4 separate regions of the Homo sapiens genome follow, and regions 1, 3 and 4 are each linked to region 2. Evidence: fine-mapped expression QTL. A gene starts in region 2. Each other region holds a variant in brackets. All regions are shown on one strand. Distances are between the middles of the regions.

Region 1 (5,449 bases), 89 kb after region 2:
TGCCTGGCCAATACTCTATTTTTTGTTAACTACTGAAGATTTGTCTCTGCAAACCATATTAAAACATCAGTGTTTTGAGTAAAGTATCTTGCTGATACAGTTGAACAAAGGAACTAATTATAGCCACTGAAACATCCACGGTTCTATCAGTGACTGCTGAACATTAACCTAGCTCTTGAAAGTAGTAGGTTCTTCTCAGGATATAGAAAGAATGTCTTTTTTCTTTTAGATTAATTCATACCAAACTGAAATCCTTTGGGCATTGAGAAACCTAGAAAGATCACCTTTCTTTTCTAGGCTATGAATTCACAGGAAGAGGAAGGTGAAGATGGGGTTAGCTGCATAACCTGCTATCCAGTTTTATTAAGAATATTGCCCAGTCGTGACTGGGCGCGGTGGCTCATGTCTGTAATCCCAGCACTTTGGGAGGCCGAGGCGGGCAGATCACTAGGTCAGGAGTTCGAGACCACCTGGCCAATATGGTGACACCCTGTCTCTGCTAAAATTACAAAAATTAGCTGGGCGTGGTGATGTGCGCCTGTAGTCCCAGTGACTTGGGAGGCTGAGGCAGAAGAATCACTTGAACCCGGGAGGCAGAGGTTGCAGTCAGCCGAGATCGCGCCACTGCACTCCAGCCTGGGTGGCAGAGTGAGACTCCGTCTCAAAAGAAAAAAAAAAAAGAATATTGCCCAGTCGCGTTGGCTCACGTCTGTAATCCCAGCACTTTGGGAAGCTGAGGTGGGAGGATCACTTGAGCTCAGGAGTTTGAAACCAGCATGGGCAACATAATGAGACCCTCATCTCTACAAAAATATAAAAATTAGCTGAGCATGGTGGTGTGCAACTGTAGTCCTAGCTACTTGGGAGGCTGAGGTGGGAGGATCGCTTGAGCCCAAGAGGTTGAGGATGCAGTGAGCCATGATTGCCCCACTGCACTCCAGCCTGGGTGACAGAGTGAGACCCTGTCTCAAAACACACACATACACGCGCGCGCGCACACACACACACACAAGAGAACATTTAACATGATACAGGTATTTGTAAGTGCCACACTGAGAGGAGACCCTCTTCGTTCAGTGGAATGACTGATTTTCAGTCTCCTTCCTCTGAACATTTTTTGCCAGCTCTTCCTTCCCTAACCTCCCTCACTTTTCTGCTTGAATATTTTTCATCCCATCCCTGTACTGTAAAAGTCCCTTTACAGAATCATGGATCCCTAGCACATGTCAGTTTCTCTTCATTATCCCCTCATTTTATTTCTTCAAATTCAAGGAAAAGCTCATTTTTTAATTCTCCCTCTGTTATTTCAGGTTATGAGTCCAGGGACAATATGGAGCTCATAGTGAAGCAGATTTCTGATGACTCTGAATCACACTGGGTGGCGCCAGAACACACCGAAAGGAGCGTTCCTCAGGATCCAGACTTTGCAGAAGTCAGTGACCTTAAAGGCATGGTACAAAGGTGGCAGGTCAACCCCACTGTGGGGAAATCAAGGCAGAATCCTTCCCAGAAAAGGGATCTGGATGCAATCACAGACATCAGCCCTAAGCAAAGCACACATGGCGAGAGAGGGCACAGATGCAGCGATTGTGGCAAATTCTTCCTCCAAGCCTCAAACTTTATTCAGCATCGGCGCATCCACACTGGAGAAAAACCGTTTAAGTGCGGAGAATGTGGGAAGAGCTACAATCAGCGGGTGCACCTCACCCAGCACCAGCGCGTCCACACAGGGGAGAAACCCTACAAATGTCAGGTGTGCGGAAAGGCTTTCCGGGTGAGTTCCCACCTGGTTCAGCACCACAGTGTCCACAGCGGAGAGAGGCCCTATGGCTGCAATGAGTGTGGGAAGAACTTCGGTCGCCATTCGCATCTGATCGAACACCTAAAACGCCACTTCAGGGAGAAATCCCAGAGATGTACGTGTGAGGAGTTTATATCCGGGGGATAAATGGAGGCGAAAAGCAAAAGGTGTTTTATTAGTACGGTACAACAGGACAGATGGGTGGTGATACTGGGGGGGGTAGGAAGAGGCAAAGGTTATCGTTTATTTGGTTCTTATGTATTTATTTTTTGAGACAGTCTCGCTCTGTCGCCCAGGCTGGAGTGCAGTGGCGAGATCTCAGCTCACTGCAACTTCTGCCTCCCCGGTTCAAGCGATTCTCCTGCCTCAGCCTCCCAAGTAGCTGGGACAACAGGCGCGCACCAGCATGCCCGGGTAATTTTTGTGTTTTTAGTAGACACAGGGTTTCCCCATGTTGGCTAGGCTGGTTTTGAACTCCTGACCTCAGGCGATCTGCCTGCCTTGGCCTCCCAAAGTGCTGGGATTACAGGCATGAGCCACTGTGCTGGCTGTGCTCTCAGCTGTTAGTGGTTCCTTCTGGTAATTCTGTATTTTAAAATAAAACTATTATTAGTTGGCTCATCAATTTTAAATGTTATCTGTTGACTTTCTATGGTAGTAAATGAGGATTTGGCTCTCTTATATGCTTTTCTCTCTTTCCCCTTTTCCCAATTTAGTTATTTTACTTATTTTAAAACAATAGCCTGGGTACAGTGGCTCACACCTGTAATCTCAGTGCTTTGGGAGGCGGCTGAGCTAGGAGGATTACTTGAGGCCAGGCATTCAAGACCACCCTGGGCAACATAGCAAGACCTTGTCTCTACAAAAAAATTTAAAAATTACCTGGGCATGGTGGCATGTGCCTGTAGTTGCAGCTCCTCGGAAGGCTGAGGTGGGAGGATCTCTTAGCCC[A/G]GAAGTTCAAGACTACAGTGAGCTATAAATGTGTCTGTGAATAGCCACTGCACTCCAGACTGGCTAACAGAGTGAGACTTCTCAAATAACAAACAAACACAAACCCAATAAAATAACAGTAGTACAGGAAGCTTGGAGAAAATAAAAAGAAAAAATAAATCACCCATAATCACATCACCCTAACTAATAGAACTGTTATTACTTAGTATGTTTCCTTTTTTTTTTATAAGTCTGTTTCACGTAGTCGTACTCAGAATTAAATATTAAGCGTACACATTTTCCAGGGCTGTTCAGCCCTCCTTTTTATTTCTGACAGTCTGCCATTGTGTGGTGGCATTGTAATTTACTCAAGTGTTCCCAGTTGTTGAACTTCAATTTTTTTCTCTTTTGTCCCGATAACTGTTTATGCCTGTGACTTTTTCTTTTTTTCTTTTCTTTTCTTTTTTTGAGACGGAGTTTCACTCTTGTTGCCCAGGCTGGAGTGCAATGGCACGATCTCAGCTCACTGCAACCTCTGCCTCCCAGGTTCAAGCGATTCTCGTGCCTCAGCCTCCTGAGTAGCTGAGATTACAGGCATTTGCCACCATACCTGGCTAATTTTTTTTTGTATTTTTAGTAGAGATGGGGTTTCACTATATTGGCCAGGATGGTCTCGAACTCCTGACCTCAAGTGATCCACCCGCCTTGGCCTCCCAAAGTGCTGGGATTATAGGTGTGAGCTACCATGCCGGGCCAGTATTTTTAAACATCTGTTCAAATGACAGTAAATTTATCTGTGAATGAGATCGTCATAAACTGTGCTGTGAACTTAAAGGCCCTTACTAATATTCTTCAGATGATTCTAAGACCAGCCAAAATGTTTTTCTTTTTTTTTTTTTTTTTTTTAATTCTGCCTTTGATGTTTACAGCCACGCTGCATCTTCCACCATGGCACAGAAGTCAGTAAAGTGTCTTTAAAGTTCTGGGTTTGAGCTGAGCTATCCTCTCAGCTAGTGTTTTCCCGTTCTACTCGATGATTCCCTCATTTGGAAAATCCACCAATAGCGCTTTGGACTTGAAAAAGCAATCGCTTTAAAATAGTTATCTTTTGTTTTCTACCTTCCCTGCAATTGTTTCTATGGCTAGTTTCCCAGTGAATACTCACTTGCCTTCCACATTTTTTTTGTGGGGCGGGGGCGTTTTTGTATTTTGAGATAGGGTCTTGCTCTGTCACACAGGCTAGGGTAAAGTAGCGGGATCTCAGCTCACTGCAGCCTCCACTTCCTGGGCTGAACTAATCCTCCCACCTCAGCTTCCTGCATAGCTGGGACTACAAGTGTTCACCACCACACCCAGCTAATTTATGTATTTTTTGTAGAGAAGGGGTCTGGCTCTGTTGCCCAGGCTGGTCTTGAACTTCTAGGCTTAAGCGATCCTCCAGCCTTGGCCTCCACAAGTGCTAGGAGTTACAGGTGTGAGCCACCATGCCCGGTCCTCCCTCATTTTTCTGGATCAAAGGGGGAATACATGTTTTGCACATCCAGCCATATTATTGAGAGTCTGTGTTGCTAGTTGCACAGGATCTGCAGTGACCAGAACAGAGATACAGTCCATGCTCTCATGCAGCCGATGGTCTGGTGGGGGTAGCAGATAGTAAAGGTGATGAGCATTCCCAAAGGAGAAGGATGACATGCCGGGGGAGGAAAACTGAGGCTAGAATGTTGGCTAAGGGTGAAGGGGGCAGGGATTGCTGTATCACCCACCCTCTGACAATGCTTCTTGTTGGCTCATTTTGCCTTATTTCCTGACTCCTAGTCAGATATTCCCTGACTGCATACCCTCTTCATCATCCTTCACTCTCATTCTTCCAGTTTTTGTCAGTTCTCACCACCCAGTTATGTATTTGTTTTTTGTTTTTCTTTTTTGAGATGGAGTCTCACTCTGTCACCCAGGCTGGAGTGCAGTGATGTGATCTCAACTCACTGCAGCTTCTGCCTCCTGGGTTCAGGCGATTCTTCTGCCTCAGCCTCCCGAGTAGCTGGGACTACAGGCACCTACCACGATCCCTTGCTAATTTTTGTATGTTTAGTAGAGATGAGGTTTTACCATGTTGGTCAGGCTGGTCTTGAACTCCTGACCTCAGGTGATCCACCTGCCTCAGCCTCCCAAAGTGCTGGGATTATAGGCACGAGTCACCACACCCAGCCTGCTACATTTTCTTTATCAACTCATTGCTCAACGGGCACTTAGATTGGCTCCATATCTTTGCAGTTGTGAATTGTGCTGCAGAAGACAGGCGCTTACAGTCTTTTTGGTATATTGTCTTTTCCTTTGTGTAGATATACCCAGTTGTGGAATTGCTGGATCAAATGGCAGATCTACTTCTGGTTCTTGAAGAAGTCTCCATACTGTTATCCACAGAAGTTGTATTAATTTATCTCTCACCAGCAATGTATAAGCGTTCCCTTTTCACCACATCCATGCCAACATCTATTGTTTTTTGACTTCTTTGTTTTTTTTGAGATGGAGTCTCGCTGTGTTGCCCAGGCTGGAGTGCAGTGGCGCAATCTTGGCTCACTGCAACCTCTGCCTCTTGGGTTCAAGCAATTCTCTGCCTCAGCCTCTGGAGTAGCTGTGATTACAGGGCACCCACCACCATGCCCAGCTAATTTTTGTATTTTTAGTAGAGATGGGGTTTCACTGTCTTGGTCAGGCTGG
Region 2 (5,449 bases):
TGCTACACGTCTAATCCCAGCTACTGAGGAGACTGAGGTAGGAGAATCGCTTGAACCCAGGAGACGGAGCTTGCAGTGAGCTGAGATCGCGCCACTGCACTCCAGCCTGAGTGACAGTGAGACTCTGTCTCAGAAAAAAAAAAAAATAATAATAATAAATAAAATAAGAAGTATGGGCCCAGAGGTTAGAAAGCCTAGGTTCAGGTCAGACATAGCTCACTGCAGCCCCACCCTCCTGTGCTCAAGCGATCCTCCCATTTCAGCCTCCCGAGTAGCTGGAACTACAGGTGTGAGCCACTATGCCTGGCTAATTTTATTTTTTGGTAGAGACAGGGTCTTGCTATGTGCCCAGGCTGGTCTTGAACTCCTGGACTCAAGCAATCCTCTCGCCTCGACCTCCCAAAGCACTGGGATTACAGCAATGAGCCACCATGCCCAGCCTAAAGTATTTTAGAGTCTGGTTATATTAGAAGGTTGCGATTGGAAAAGTCTTACAAGTGATGGCAGATTGAACAGATTAAAAACTAGGCCCAGTAGGTCAGGAGCGGTGGCTCACGCCTGTAATCCCAGCACTTTGGGAGGCCAAGGTGGGTGGATCCCCTCAGGTCAGGAGTTCGAGACCAGCCTGACGTGGTGAACCCTATCTCTGCCGAAAATATAAAAATTAGCTGGGCGTGACAGCGTGCCCCTGTAATCCCAGCTACTTGGGAGGCTGAGGCAGGAGAATCACTTGAACGTGGGAGGCAGAGGTTGCAGTGAGCCAAGATCGCGCCATTGCACTCCAGCCTGAGCGACAGAGCAAGACTCCATCTCAAAACAACAACAACAACAACAAACAAAAAACTAGGCCCAGCAAGGGGAGAGACTTGCTGGGGTCCTGCAGCAGTGCAGTGGGTGAGACTGGCCAGCTTGGGCTGGGCTGGCTTTGAACTCAGGTCCATGTAACGCATTGATGATTGTCCTGACCAGCACCTTTTGTGAAACTAGTGCAGGGGGCCTTTATCATTCTGCATCTGGCAAGCCCTGCCACTCCTTCTTACAAGCATGGTGTTTATGTAATTTTCTTTTTTGTGGAATGGGGTCTTCATGTTGCCCAGGCTGGAGTGCGATGGCACAGTGGAGTGCAAATGCACAATCACTGCAACCTCCAACTCCTGGGCTCAAGTGATCCTCCTACCTCAGCCTCTCAATTAACTAGCACTACTGGTGCACACCACCATACCTGTCTAATTTTTTGTATTTTTTTGTAGAGATGGAGTCTCCCTATGTTGCCAGGCTGGTCTAGAACTCCTGGCCTCAAGCAATCCTCCAGCCTTGGCCTCCCAAAGTGTTGGGATTGCAGGCGTAAGCCTCCATGCCCTGCCTTACGTGCATTAATTACAATACACAGAATTACAAAACAAAAAGCAATGATATTGAAATGGCATCAAAATGCTTTAAAAACAAATTTCTGCTATACTAGTATAGATGCTTATTTTCAATGCATGAAATAACAAGACCCTATCATAATTTCTTTTCTTTTCTTTTTTTTTTTTTGAGACAGTCTCTCACTCTGTCCTCAGGCGTGACCTCGGCTCACTGCAATTTCCGCCTCCCGGATTCAAGCGATTCTCCTGCCTCAGCCTCCCCTGGAGCTGGGACTACAGACGCATGCCACCAAGCCCAGCTAATTTTTGTATTTTTAGTAGAGACAGGGTTTCACCATGTTGGCCAGGATGGTCTGGATCTTTTGACCTTGTGATCCGCCCGCCTCGGCCTCCCGAAGTGCTGGGATTACAGCCGTGAGCCACCGCGCCCGGCCGACTCTATCATAATTTCAAAGCAGTAATAAATGTAAGTGACAGCTTAAGATACCACCTTGTAGTTGCTGCACAAACTGGGTTTTTTTGCGTCTCACTCTGTCACCAGGCTGGAGTGGGGTGGTACAATCTCGGCTCAATGCAACCTCTGCCTCCCGGGTTTAAGCCATGCTCATGCCTCAGCCTCCCAAGTAGCTGGGATTACAGGAACGCGCCACTACTCCAGGCCAATTTTTATATTTTCAGTAGGGACGGGGTTTTGCCATCCTGTCCAGGCTGGTCTCGAACTCCTGACCTCACGTGATCCTCTCGCCTCAGACTCCCAAAGTGCTGAGGTTACAGGTGTGAGCCACCATGCCTGGCCCTGCACAAACTGTTATCTGGAACTATCATTTACACTCACCCTCACAGTTTCAGGCACTGCTAAGGCTGCTCCAGCAATCAGGAAAGGAAATGCTATACTTCACATAGAGAAAAATAGGGGTGCATTTTGTTCCTACACAAGCTCATTACCCCACCCTGGTTAAAAAAAACCCTGAATTAGGCTGTATAGTGGCTCATGCCTGCAATTCCAGCACTTTGGGAGGCCCAGGCAGGAGGATCGCTTTGGGCTTGGGGCCAGGAGTTCGAGACCAGCCTGGGCAACATAGCAAGACCCGCCACCCGCCCCCCCAACCCCGCCGTCTCTACAAAAATTAAAAATAAAATTTTAAAAATTAGCCAAGTGTGGTGGTGCAGCGTCTGTAGTTCCAGCTACTCGGGAGGCTGAGGTGGGAGGATCGCTTGAGTCTGAGAAGTTGACTGCAGTGAGCTATGATCGTACCCCTGTACTCCAGCCTGGGCCACAGAGCGAGAAAAAACCCTGAATTAGAGACACGCTGCGGCCGTCCTTCCTCGGAGAGACCCGCCCCTCCTCAGAGGCCCACCCGGACCCTCAGGCCAACGCCGACCCCTCTCCACACGGACTTCTGCAGCCTCAGTTTCCCTCCTCAGACGCCCCCGGCTCCAATCCCGGCTCGGGCACTTCCTTCCCCTCTGGCGTGTCTTGGCCCGGGTCCCGGGGCTCCTGCGAGGATCACACAGGAACTCACTTGAAGTGTCCGGCGCAGTGCACTCCGACGGGGAGCCCTGCCCGGTCCCCGCGGCGAACCAGTCTCTTCCTCGGGTCCCCCTCTCCCCAAGCGCGCAGGCGCAATCCGCGTCGCCGACTCACGCGGCTGGTTTCAGGTTTCTGGCGAGGCCGGTGTTCGGCTGGCGGCTAGCTGGGACTAGCGGAACGGCGGAGTCTCGATTGGCAGTGCCTGGACAGGCGCAAGGGCCGGCGCGGGCTCCGGGCGCTCCCGGCATCCCTCGGGCGGCGGCGGCGGCGGCGGCGAGGCGAAGCGAAGGAGGAGTGTGTGCGGCGGGGCCGGCGGCGGGTAAAGGCGAGAAGGCTGCAGGAGACCGAGGGGGAGCCGGGCCGGTGGGGCCGCCGCCGCCGCCATGCAGGAAATCATCGCCAGCGTGGACCACATCAAGTTTGACTTGGAGATCGCGGTGGAGCAGCAGCTGGGGGCGCAGCCGCTGCCCTTCCCCGGCATGGACAGTGAGCGCGGGGCCCGGGCGGGAGGGCAAGAGCGACTCGAACCCGGGACCCGCTCCTCTGTGATCCCGGGACTCCCTCGCCTCGGTCCTGAGACCTCCCCCGGCTTCCTCTGGATCCTGGGACCCCTCCCCTTTGGTCGCAGGACTCCTCCCTCTAGGTCTTGAGAGTCCCTCCCACCTCCTCCGGGTCCTGGGATCCTCCCCTTTAGTTACCGAACTCCCTCATCTGTGGTCCCGAGACTCTTCCCACTCCATCCTGAGACCTCCTCTTCTGGATCCCGGGACGCTCCCCTTGGTTTCAGGACTCCTGACTCCCAGGCCCCCATTTCCACCGTCTGGGGACTCCTTTTACCCTCACTCGGACTCAGGAGTTCACTGCCTCGGATCTTTGGCCCTCTGCGGCTGTTCAAAGGTAATCTGTAGGAGGGTAGACCTTGTCTGTTCGCTTAATTCTTGAATAAGGGTGGGTTATCCTGGATTGGAACTCTCCCTCAACACTCTCCCAACTGCAGGAGAGTACTAGGATATCACACCCGCTACGTTGAGCGTCTCTTCTTGATTTCATCAAAACTAGGCGGTTGGAGGAGATGTGCTGAGGGAAGGACCACCTTTCTGTAGGAGACCCCAGCTAGACTCTCAAACTCCCTTCTAGGACTCACTCTCCTGGGAGCTCATCCCTAGTTTTTGGCCCGTCCCTACTTTTTTCTGGACCCCAACTCTGAGTTATTCATCACACCCAGCAGCTGGTGTGGACCCTTGGCCTGAACTCCCTTCACTGCTCCCCTTCATATGGTGGCTCCTGGCTTCCCACCTCCTACTCGGTGGGATATCTTGTACTTTAAAAGAAACCAGTAGTTTTCTTTGTGTCTTCTTTCCTATCTGGACATACTTGAAATCTAATGCTATAACCTTAAAGTTTGGGGGCTTGTGGAAGTCACTGAGTTCAATCCACAGATGGGGAAACTGAGACCCAAGCGGGGGAAGGGACTTGCTGACAATCACTCAGTGCATAGCAGAGGCGGGCAAGCTCTCCAGTGTTGTGTGCTGTCGCCCACAACTACCAGCGGGGTCTCCCACCGCTCCCAGCAGCCTCACTCCCCTCAGGCGGTCACACCTTCTCATGCACATGTGACCTCTGAGTCTGTCCCTTTATGTGTTTTTGTTGTTGTTGTTTGTTTGCTTTTGAGACAGGGGCCCCTCTGTCGCCCAGGCTGGGTGCAGTGACGCAATCATGGCTCAATGCAGCCTCGACTTCCCAGGCTCCAGCAATCCTCCCACCTCAGTCTCCCAAGTAGCTGGGACCACAGGCATGCACCAACACGCCTGGCAAATTTTTTTGTGTGTATTTCTTGGTAGAGACACTATTTCATCATGTTTCCCAGGGTTGGTCTTGAACTCCTGGGCTCAAGTGATCCTTTTACCTCGGCCTTCGGAAGTACTGGGATTATAGGCATGAGCCACTGCACCTGGCATATATATATATATATATATTTTTTTTTTTTTTTTTTTCCTGCCTGTCCCACAACTTTACATGGTGATAGTTCTGTACAAGATAGTTTCATTGGAAATTAATTAAGTCTTCAAGAAGACAAGATAGTGCTTATAAGGAGACATCATCAGACCACCCTATTTGACACAGGCACAAACACCATCACCACTGTACACTCCCTAAAAAGCAGCTGCTCAAATTCACACACACACACCCCCTCTTACCTACCCCTCGACTCTTGTGATCATCCCTGCACATGTGGCCTTTTCCTGTCTTTTTTTTTTTTTTTTTTTTGAGACAGAGTTTTGCTTTTGTCACCCAGGCTGGAGTGCAATGGTGCGATCTCGGCTCACTGCAACCTCCACCTCCCAGGTTCAAGCAGTTCTGCTGCCTTGGCCTCCTGAGTAGCTGGGATTATAGGCGCCCACCACCACGCCCAACTAATTTTTGTATTTTTAGTAGAGATGAGGTTTCACCATGTTGGCCAGGCTGGTCTTGAACTCCTGACCTTAAATGATCCACCTGCCTCGGCCTCCCAAAGTGCTGGGATTACGGGCATAAGCCACTGTGCCCAGCC
Region 3 (5,449 bases), 230 kb after region 2:
CCCCTTGGAAACGGACTGTGATCTTACTTTCTACCTGTCCCCAGATTCATTCTTTACATTTCTAATTAAGACTCATCTTATTTTCATACCTCCTTGAGTTTTCCGCTGGTGAAGGTTGGAGACAGCAATGACCGTATTCTCTTCCATTCTTCATCCTCAGCTAAAGAGATGGCACTTTTCATAAATCCCACTGGGCCTAAAGACTAGAGTTCAACAGAAACATTTTTTCTCACATTAGTTGTGGTGATCTTCATGGTTGCACAAAATATATTGAAGAGGCATCCTTATTTAACAAATATTTATTGACTGTATATGATATTATGGCAAGCCATATTCAAGATGCTCAATGGAGATCCTAGATGCCTAGCCTCTTCTGAGTGTATGTGGGGCGGGGGTGGGAGTGGGGAGACCCAGCCATCTGGTGTGGTCTCCTGCCTCTATATCTCAGTCTCCTTTTAATTGCAAATGCTCCACGTGGTAGGGAACTGTTCTTCCAGTGGAATAGACAGGAACAAGACCTAGCCCTTCCCCAGGAGTGTGCAGAGTAGAAAAGGATTGGTGACAGATGGGCAGACTGTATGTTGCCTCAGACCAGCTCTGTCTTTAATACACCTACAGCATGGGCAACTTGAAAAAGGGATGCCATGATGTGGTGATTTTTTTTTGAAAAGTAGGTAATACTTAAAGACTAGAAACCTGTTTTGAAGGAATAATGCAATTTCCTTGAAAATTCTTTTCTCTTAATTTTTTATTCCATAAATAGAAGGAAAAAGAAAGGGATAATTACTTTTCCCAACTTGGGGCTGGACTATCAAGCCAGCATGCTTGGAACTTTCTCTTATCTTCCACAACTATGTTTTGTTTTAAAATGTGTACTTCCAGCTGTCATGATAAAATCTCAATAAACTAGGAAGAGAGAGACAGTTCCTTCATTTGATAAAGACAATCTGTAAAAAAATCATTCAGTTAAATCACATTTAATGATGAAGGACTGAATGGTTTTTCCAAGATCAAGAAGAACTAAAAAATGCCCACTCTCAACATTCTTACTAAAGAGCATACCTGATGTCTTAATACACTAGACAAGAAAAAGAAATAAAAGGCATACAGATTGGAAAGGAAATAATAGAATTGTCTCTATTTTCAGGTGACATAATTGTCAATGTATAAAATGTCAAGGAATATACAAAAAAATTTCTAGAACGAATAGGTAAGTTCTGCAAGGCTATAGGATACAAGATCAACAAACAAAATTATTCACATTTCTATGTAACAATAATCAATATCTGAAAATACAAGAAAAACAGTATCATTTACAGTTACTCCAACAAAAATGAAATATTTCTGGTGTAAATCTAACAAAAGATGTACAGGACCTCTATGCTGAAAACTATAAAATGTTGAGGAAAGTAATAAAAGCTAAAGAAATGGAGAGGCATACTATATTCACGGGATGAAAGGCTGAACATAGTAAAGATATAGATTATACCCAAATTGTTCTATTGGTTTAATTCAAGCTTGTCCAACTTGTGGCCTGCAGGCCTCATGCAGTCCAGGATGGCTTTGAATGTATCCCAATACAAATGTGGAAACTTTCTTAAAACATTTTGAGTTTTTTTGCAATTTTTTTTGTAATTTTGTAATTTGACTATGTGATTCTCAAGTGTGAACTTCGTAGACAACAATGGAATGGAAAGGGGTAATCAGAGTATGTCACATCCACAAATAATGGACTAGTATCCATAATTTGCATTATAATTGCAAACAGTTCAGCAAGAAGAAATTAAAAGCCATTAAAATTAACTAACAAAGAGCGAGAGGACGCTATTGCAGTGCCACGTGAAGTGAATTGTGACAAAGAATTCAAGTGTGTATTCTGGACAAGGCAGAGCGCTGCTGTACACCAGACACTGTCGCCATTTGTACGCATGTGTGGCTTCAGTTTTATGGTGGTGTGCGACTTCCAGTGTGTTATCTTCTAATCACGGACAGTTGAATTGACACTGTCAGGTATTAGGTGTGTTTGTGGCAATTTGGCAAGTAAAACCCAGCAATTATCAATAATATTTCAACCTACCTTTGTAGATGATAGGTGTTTAATATTATTTAGAAGACATGTAAGTATTCTTATTTGATTATTAAACCTTGCTTTCTGTTCTATTTTCCTATCTGTTAATTTCCATAATAAAAGTAAATATAGTTGCTTATCTATTATAATGCTTTTAATTCCAGAATGGCTTCCACAATGTCTTAAAAAGAAAACCCTAAAAAACAAAAATTATGGATGAAGGAAGATTGTTCAATGAAAAGTGGACAAATGACTTTTTCTTGTTGAGGCAAATAGCGAAGCACTCTGCTTAATTTCCACGGAATTTGTGCCAGTTTTCAAAGACTACAATTTGAAGAGGCATTATATGCAAAAACGTGCTGACAAATTTGGTGTGTATGTGTTGTAAGGACAAAATAGCAGAACTGAAAAAAAGTCTGTCTTTTCAACAAAAAAGATTTTTTAAAAAGTTACAACTCGGACTCAATCGTAAGGTAAAACCTAGTTATGTGGTAGCAAATTTAATAGCAAAAAAATCAAAACCATTTACTGATGGTGAGTTTATTAAGCAATGTCTGGAAGATGTGGTAGATATTATTTGCCTTGAGAAACTGATATTTCTAAAATCAGTTTGTCTCACCAGACTATAGCCAGGAGAATTGGAGAAATTGGGAAATCTATTGAAAGACGTTTGGAGAGTAAAACTGCTAATTTAAAATTTTATGCTTTGGTGATGGATGAAGGCACTGACACTACAGATACGGCACAACTTGCTATTTTTATTAGAGGTATTGATGATGAATATAATGTCACTGAAGAAATCGAAATGTCACCATGCTATTAAAAGACACAACTAAATCAAGAGATTTATATGAAGCAGTGAAAAATATGTTAAAGCAATTTTCTTTGTCCTTTGTAAACATATGTGATATAGCTACAGATGCTGCCCTGGCGATGGTAGGTAAAAGAGAGGGACTTGTACAATTAATAGATGATGCAGTTGCCACACAAAACTCACATTTGATGAAGTATTATTGCATAATACATCAAGAAAATCCATGTGCACAAGCTTTAAAAGTAGATAACGTCATGCAAATTGTCATCAAGGCTGTAAATTTCACAAGGGCCCAGGAATTGAATCATCGCTAGTTTCAGGAATTCCTTAAAAGTATGGA[T/G]GCTGACTCTAGCAAGTCATTCACTTTTTAGAAGTAAGATGGTTAAGTCAAGGCAAAATGTAAAGATTTTATGCTTTGTGATGTGAAATCAAGCTGTTTATGGTATCAAACAAAATTGGTGCCAGAACTTGACAATGAAAACTGGCTTACAGATTTAGCATTTTTAGTGGGTTTGACGGCCCATTTAAGTGAGTTAAACCTGTGTCTTCAAGTTGAAAACCAACTTAACAATACAATGTTTCAAACCATAACAGCATTCCATATGAAACTGAAATTATGGCAAGCTCAAATTAAGGCAAACAATTTTATGCATTTCGACATGTTGGCTAAACATGGTCCTGTGAACAGCCAAAAATACGCAGCCTTGCTTTTCAATTTGATACAGGAATTTGAAAACAGGTATTTCAAGATTTCTGAAAAAATCATCAATATTTTGGTATATTTGCAACTCCATTTTCAGTCGACATATATATGTTACCTGGCAATTTTGAAATGGAATGCCTAGAGCTGCAATCTGATGTTCAACTTATAGAAAAATTTGATTTTGCCTCTTTACTGGACTTTTGTAAGACCTGTCTTCCCAATGACAAATATCCCTTGCTTCACAATCACACCTTGTTCATGTCATTGCTTTTTGGCAGCACTTACATTTGTGAGCTACTATTTTCAAGGATGAAGAACACGAAGAGTAAAATTAGAACCAAAATATCTGATGAGCACCTTGAGAACTCACTGAGAATTGCAACTACTTCCATCAAGCCAGATACTGATGGATTAGTTTCTCAAAAACAATGTCAAGTACCCCACTAGTTTTATGTTGTTCTCTTTTCTTTTATAATAAAAAATATCAAAAAAGTAGTGAAGTTTAGCTAGATATGTACATTTTCTGTATCAGTGATTGCAAACTTGGAACCTGTTCAATGATTTTGAAAGACCCTCTGAATGGGGCAGTGCATAATTAGGATTATTATGCAAGGACATTTTTGCTTATCTGTGGTGGTAGATATATAATGAAAACTATACACAGACCATTTGTGTGTGTGTGTGTGTGTGTGTGTGTGTGTGTGTGTGTGTGTGTGTATTTTATGTGTGGCCCACGACACTTCTTCTTCCACTGTGGCCCAGGGAAGCCAAAAGATTGGACACCTCTGCTTTAATTCTTATCAAAATTATGGCAGGTTTGTTTGTAGACACTTACAAGCTTATTCTGAATTTTTATGGAAAGGCAAGGGACAAGAAAAGCTAAAGCCATTCTGAAAATATAAATCAATAAAGTGGAAAGAATTGCCCTATATGATGTTAAGAGTTACTGTACAGCTACTAGAGTCACCACAGTGTGGTATTAGTGGAGGAGTAAACAATAAGAAATAGATTCACAAAATATACTCAGCTGAGTTTTGACAATATGCCTACCTTTCCAAAATGGTGTTGGAACATTTGGACAGCCATAGTCCACAGAAAATGAACCTTGATCTAAATCTCATAACTTATGCAAATATTAACACAAAATGGGTAATAGAGTTACATTTTGTAAAGTGTTAAACTATATAACTCTTAGAAAAAGCAATGTAGGAAGGAGGGCTAAGCAAAGGATTTTCAGACTTAACACCAAAAGAACAATCCATAAAAGGAAATATTAATACATTGGCCTCCTCAAATAAATAAAAGTTTGCTCTGATATAGAACCTGTCAGAGAAAAAGACAAACTCCATGTTGTGACTGTAGGACAGCAGGAGGGAGCCACATGGTGACGGAATGGGTCTGCATCTTGATGGTGCTGGTCGTTGCACAAATCTACGAATGTGAAAAATTGCTTAGAACTACCCACACACATAAACACACACAAACAAGGGCATGTAAAACTGGTGAAATCTGAAAAGCTCTGTAAACTATATCAAAGTCAATTTCCTGTACTATAGTATTAGGTTGGTGCAAAAGTTATTGCAGTTTGCCGGTTTTTGTTGTTGTTGTTGTTGTTGTTGTTTGAGATGGAGTCTCATTGGGTTGCCCAGACTGGAGTATAATGGCGTGATCTCGGCTCACTGCAACCTCCGCCTCCCAGGTTCAAGCGATTCTCCTGTCTCAGACTACTGAGTAGCTGGGACTACAGGCGCATGCCACCACACGCAGCTAATTTTTGTATTTTTAGTAGAGATGGGGTTTCACCATGTTGGTCAGGCTGATCTCGAACTCCTGACCTCGTGATCCACCTGCCTCGGCCTCCCAA
Region 4 (5,449 bases), 27 kb after region 2:
GGAGGCCAAGGCAGGCAGATCACGAGGTCAGGAGTTCAAGACCAGCCTGGCCAACATAGTGAAACCTCATCTCTACTAAAAATACAAAAATTAGCTGGGCATGGTGGCGTGTGCCTGTAGTCCCCGCTACTCGGGAGGCTGAGACAGGAGAATCGCTTAAACCTGGGAGGTAGAGGTTGCAGTGAGCCAAGATCGTGCCACTGCAAGGGACTATCCAGTTCATCCAAGATGCATCTATACTTATTCCACGAATTTCTCTTTCACTGGAAGGCAAAGGAAGGCCTCAGTCCTTGGTTGCCCTATTGGAACTCCCACCCCAACTCTACACACACCCGCTCCTCTGCAGCACTGAAGCTTCCATCTGCAATCACTGGGTCACATAAAGAGACCCAGTAGAGTTCAGAGACAGAGCAGACCCTTGGGTCTAGTGCCATTCTGGGTTTAATGCCATTTTGTAGGTGTGTGCCCTTGGGCAAGGTACTACTCCTTCTCAGTTTCCTCCTTTGTGAAATCCTTGGTACTTGGCCCTAGGTACTATGTAAATGAGAACTATTACCACCTTTCTGCCTGGTTATGAGCTACCTGAAGGTGCGAATATCCCCACCACTTCTTGGTACACGACAGATTCTCAGTAATGGTTGTAGAACCACAGATCCTCGAGAGGAAACATACTGTTCATTACTATGAAGCCACATGGAAATAGCAAGTCTCTCCTGAGTGCTAAATCCAACCTGGGGGTTGTCCAGAGAATAAAGATTTTTGGATTTGCAGGCCACATAAGGTCTTCATAGCATAGTCTATTTTATTTTTAAACAATCTTTTTAAAAACAGAAAATGACCCAATGCAGTGGCTCACGCCAGTAATCCCAACACTTTGGCCGAGATGGGAGGACTGCTTGAGGCCAGGAGTTTGAGACCCCATCTCTATAATAAATAAAATAAAAACAAAAAACCATTCTAGGCCCTGTACAGTGGCTCACGTCTGTAATCCCAGCACTCTGGGAGGCCAAGGCAGGAGGATCACGAGCTCAGGAGTCTGAGACCAGCCTGACCAAAATGGCGAAACCCCATCTCTACTAAAAATACAAAAATTAGCCGGGTGTGGTGGCGGGCACCTGCAATTCCAGCTACTTGGGAGGCTGAGGCAGGAGAATCACTTGAACCTGGGAGGTGGAGGTTGCACTGAGCTGAGATCGTGCTATTGCACTGCAGCCTGGGCGACAAAAGCAAGACTCCATCTCAAAAAATAAATAAATAAATAAAAATAAAATATAAAAACAAAAAAACCATTCTGAGCTCATGGCCAGACAAAAACAGGCCACACGAAATCCAACTCACTGGCCATAGTTTGCCAACCGCGATCTTATCTACTGCTGCTAATTCATATTTCCCTCACTTTATGTGCTCATGAAATACTGTCTTTGTCCTCTGGTGACAGACACTACCTAAAAGATCATCAATACCTAAGAGACATGGACTCCAATTTCTTCACCGGGGGTGATGCTGAATAGGCCAGGCATGTGACATGACCCTGCCTAAAGGTCACAAAGTAAAGGCTGGGATGACCAGCTCACACCGACTGAGTACTCACTGTGGGCCACGCAGCGTTCCAAGTGTCTTTCACATGCTAAATCGATTGATCCTTAGTTCAGAGCTCTTGACCACAGCCCTATGCTTAAACAAAATGCCCCAGTGTTCACTTTTCACAGGTTGTCTCCTTAACACAACTACCGTGTACGACGAATGCTATTATGCCCATTTTACTGAGGGGAAAACAGCTTCCCTCTCATCTATTCTGAACCCCTCTTCATTTCTCTAGGCTGAGATTAAGAATACAGAGGCCGGAGGCCGGGCGCAGTGGCTCACACCTGTAATCCCAGCACTTTGGGAGGCTGAGGTGGGCAGATCACAAGGTCAGGAGATCGAGACCATCCTGGCTAACACAGTGAAACCCTGTCTCTACTAAAAATACAAAAAATTAGCTGGGCGGGGTGGCGGGCGCCTGTAGTCCCAGCTACTCAGGAGGCTGAGGCAGGAGAATGGCGTGAACCCGGGAGGCAGAGCTTGCAGTGAGCTGAGATCGCGCCACTGCACTCCAGCCTGGGCGACAGAGCGAGACTCCATCTCAAAAAAACAAACCAGAGGTCAGGCGCAGTGGCTCACGCTGGTAATCTCAACACTTTGGGAGGTCGAAGCAGGTGACTCACTTGAGGTCAAGAGTTTGAGACCAGCCTGGTCAACGTGGCGAAACCCATCTCTACTAAAAATACAAAAAAAAATTAGCCGGGCGTAGGTACTGGTGTGTGCCTGTAATCCCAGATACTTGGGAGGCTGAGGCAGCAGAATCATTTGAACCTGGGAGGCAGAGGTTGCAGAGACGAGATCAGCTACTGCACTCTAGCCTGGGCGACAGCGTGAGACTCCATGTCAAAAAAAAAGAATACAGAAACGCAGTGGCTCACACCTGTAGTCCCAGCACTTTGGGAGGCCGAGGTACATGGATCACCTGAGGTCAGGGGTTCAAGACTAGCCTGGCCAACGTGGTGAAAGCCCGTCTCTACTAAAAATACAAAAATTAGCTGGGCATGGTGGCCTGCGCCTGTAATCCCAGCTACTCGGAGGCTGAGGCTGGAGAATCGCTTGAACCCAGGAGGCAAAGGTTACAGTGAGCCGAGATCACACCATTGCACTCCACCCTGGGCGACAAGAGCGAAACGCCATCTCAAAAAAAAAATGATAAAAAAAA[A/C]CCAGAAACTGAGCTAAGACACACATGTGTTAATCAAAACTCTGCCACTATCAGGCTGTGTGACCTCAGAGAGGCCACACCACATCCCGAACAGTTATTTCCCTCATCTGTAAAATGGAATCGACTTTCCCAACAAGGACTCTCTGACAAGGCTACTATGGAGCATCTAGGGCTAACTATTCAAAAACAAACAAACAAAAATCATCAGTGTGCACAGCGGGATGAATGTAGCGATTTACACATGGGTGTCTCGGAAAAGCCTGCTAGTCATAAGGCCGTCCTAGAGAATAAAGTTCATTTACCACGAATCCTCAGGTTTGAATACCAGCTCAGCCCTCGCACGAGTTGTGACCTTGAACAGGTCACCTCGCCTCTCTGATTCAACATATATGCATCGAACCTTACATGGTATCAGGTACAGTCCTAGTCCTGAGCTCCTCCTGGAGCTTCATCTGAGCTTAAGCCTTGGGAAAAAAGGGCAAAAGCTGCGCCTAACATTCAAGTGCAAAGCAACTGGGTCGCAGCGGGAGAGGGAAGCGGCTATTTCTTAGCGGAAAGAGGAACAGTGGCCCAAGGCGGCGCATTCCCAGGCCCAGAAGCGCGTGCCCCAGATGCCTTCACCCTCCACGCCTAACCCGGTTGGCGCAGGCCCTGGGCAGCAGGAAGGCGCGCCTGGGCAGGCGGAGCGGGGTCTGGCGCGCCTCAAGTGAGGTCGTGGCGAAGTGCCTGAGCAAAGGGCAGGCAGCTCCGCAGCTTCCTTCTCTCCCAGTGTGGCTCTGGACCCTGGACCCTGGCTCCTGCTTCCACCACGGAGTCCAAACAGCCTTACCTGGGGCCGGACACTCACCAACTGACGCCATTTTGGAGTCCTGGTGTCCGCTGTGCCGGACCGCGCGAGGGCTGCTGGGTAGGGAATGCACGCCCCATCCAGGGGCGTAGAGCAGAGGCTCACGGGAAGCAGGTCACAACTGCGAACACCCTGGAACTACTAGAAGGCCATGAAGCGAAGGGCGAGGTGCCTGGACAGCAAAAATCCGAGGGTCCTGCAGTTAGAGAGAGGGGCGCCTCAGCCTGGGCTCTCTACCTTAAAAGGTGGGAAGAGGCCGCGCTGGGACTACAAGCGTGCACCAGCACAGCAAGCTAATTTTTGTATTTTTAGTAGAGACAGGGTTTCACCATGTTGGCCAGGCTGGCCTTGAACTCCTTTCCTCACGTGATCCCCCCGCCTCGGCCTCCCAAAGTTCTGGGGTTACCGGCGTGAGCCACCGCGCCCAGTCTATTTTTATTTTTATTTTTTACTTTTCAGACGAGCATTTACTTTTCAGACAGTGGCTTGATCACGGCTGACTGCAGCCTTGAACTCCCGGAGTCAAGCGATCCACCCATCTCAGCCTCCCAAGTAGCTAGGACTACAGGCTCACATCACCACTTCCAGCTTTTTTTTTTTTTTTTTTTTTTTTTTTTTTTTTTTGGTGGAAACAGTGTGGTGAGGAGTGGGGGTAGAGGCTCTCTATTTTGCTCAGGCTGGTCTTGAACTCCTGGCCTCAAGCGTTCTTCCTCCACCTCCGAAGTAGCTGGGACTACAGGTGCACGCCACCACGCCCAGCTAATTATATTTTGTAGAGAAGGCGTCTCCCTATGTTGCCTAGACTGCTCTTAAACTCTTGGCCTCGAGCGTTCCTCCTACCTCGGCCTCCCAAAATACTGGAACTGCCGGCATGAACCACACTGCCCGGGCTACTTCAATTTTGATTATTTTAATTAATTTATTTATTTATTTAGAGACAGAGTCTCGCTCTGTCACCCAGGCTAGAGTGCAGTGGCGCGATCTCGGCTCACTGCCAGCTCCACCTCCGGGGTTCACTCCATTCTCCTGCCTCAGCCTCCCGAGTAGCTGGGACTACAGGCGCCCACCACCACGCCTGGCTAATTTTTTGTATTTTTTTGTATTTTTAGTAGAGACGGGGTTTCAACATGTTAGCCAGGATGGTCTCAATCTCCTGACCTCGTGATCCACCCGCTTCGGCCTCCCAAAGTTCTAGGATTACAGGCGTGAGCCACCGCGCCGGGCCTCCGATTTTTAAAACAACCTCGAGAGCAGGTCTTGTAGTCATAACTTGCCAAATAAATGCCACCCTCGTTCAGTTCATTCTGCTACATTTCTTGTTTCAGAGGTGGCATTGTGGGGCTCCTCCATGTCTGCTTCCCTTCTCCCCAGGCAGTGAAAATCGCATATACAATTATAGGTGTGTGAAAGCACGGCCAGCATCGCCAGTGGGAATTAAAAATGGTTAAAAAAACAAAACAAAACAAACAGGCCAGGTGCGGTGGTTCACGCCTGTAATCCTAGCACTTTGGGAGGCAGAGGTGGGCGGATCACTTGAGGTCAGGTGTTCAAAACCAGCCGGGCCAACATGGTGAAAATACGAAAAAAATTAGCTGAGCGCGGTGGCAGGTGCCTGCAATTCCAGCTACTTGGGAGGCTGAGGCAGGAGAATCACTTGAACCTGGGAAGTGGAGGTTGCAGCGAGCGGAGGTCAAGCCACTGCACTCCAGCCTGGGCGGCAGAGCAAGACTCTGTCTCAAAAAAAACAAAAAACAAACAAACAAAAAAAAACCAGGCTGGTCGCGGTGGTTCACGCCTGTAATCCCAGCACTTTGGGAGGCCAAGGTGCGCGGATCACCTGAGATCAGGAGTTCGAG

Direction of the effects. Alleles are on the strand shown, and positions count from the first base shown. SD is a standard deviation of normalised expression in the study named. Not every link is listed here.
For the expression in lung of the gene that starts at base 2,997 in region 2, A is the low allele of the variant in region 1 and G is the other (moderate effect, 0.58 SD a copy in GTEx).
For the expression in pancreas of the gene that starts at base 2,997 in region 2, T is the low allele of the variant in region 3 and G is the other (large effect, 0.77 SD a copy in GTEx).

The links. PIP is the estimated chance that this variant, and not a neighbour inherited with it, causes the effect.
Region 1: its variant is the best candidate, but not a certain one, in a credible set for the expression of PTCD1 in lung (GTEx, PIP 0.75).
Region 3: its variant is the best candidate, but not a certain one, in a credible set for the expression of PTCD1 in pancreas (GTEx, PIP 0.69).
Region 4: its variant is the best candidate, but not a certain one, in a credible set for the expression of PTCD1 in whole blood (TOPMed, PIP 0.61).

What each region holds. Positions count from the first base shown.
Region 1 is chr7:99,524,503-99,529,951 of GRCh38, forward strand. ZKSCAN5 (zinc finger with KRAB and SCAN domains 5) reads left to right here. Exons shown (of 7, transcript NM_145102.4): 6 at 1,311-1,916. Among named protein-coding and RNA genes, the nearest start is that of ZKSCAN5, 23 kb to the left of the region's middle. The variant A/G (reference allele first, on the strand shown) is at 2,753.
Region 2 is chr7:99,435,802-99,441,250 of GRCh38, forward strand. PTCD1 (pentatricopeptide repeat domain 1) reads right to left here and starts at 2,997. Exons shown (of 8, transcript NM_015545.4): 1 at 2,891-2,997. The region is part of intron 2 of ATP5MF-PTCD1 (ATP5MF-PTCD1 readthrough); the gene reads right to left. CPSF4 (cleavage and polyadenylation specific factor 4) reads left to right here and starts at 3,142. Exons shown (of 8, transcript NM_006693.4): 1 at 3,142-3,384. The coding sequence starts at 3,282. RefSeq lists enhancers at 765-1,290, 2,587-2,876 and a silencer at 3,137-3,436.
Region 3 is chr7:99,666,863-99,672,311 of GRCh38, forward strand. CYP3A5 (cytochrome P450 family 3 subfamily A member 5) reads right to left here. Exons shown (of 13, transcript NM_000777.5): 5 at 90-203. It also overlaps a transcript of ZSCAN25 not described here. Among named protein-coding and RNA genes, the nearest start is that of CYP3A5, 10 kb to the right of the region's middle. The variant T/G (reference allele first, on the strand shown) is at 3,223.
Region 4 is chr7:99,462,536-99,467,984 of GRCh38, forward strand. ATP5MF-PTCD1 (ATP5MF-PTCD1 readthrough) reads right to left here and starts at 3,632. Exons shown (of 9, transcript NM_001198879.2): 1 at 3,594-3,632. The coding sequence starts at 3,606. It overlaps ATP5MF (ATP synthase membrane subunit f), which reads right to left and starts at 3,632. Exons shown (of 4, transcript NM_004889.5): 1 at 3,576-3,632. The coding sequence starts at 3,606. RefSeq lists enhancers at 2,801-3,418, 3,419-4,034, 3,701-3,820. The variant A/C (reference allele first, on the strand shown) is at 2,747.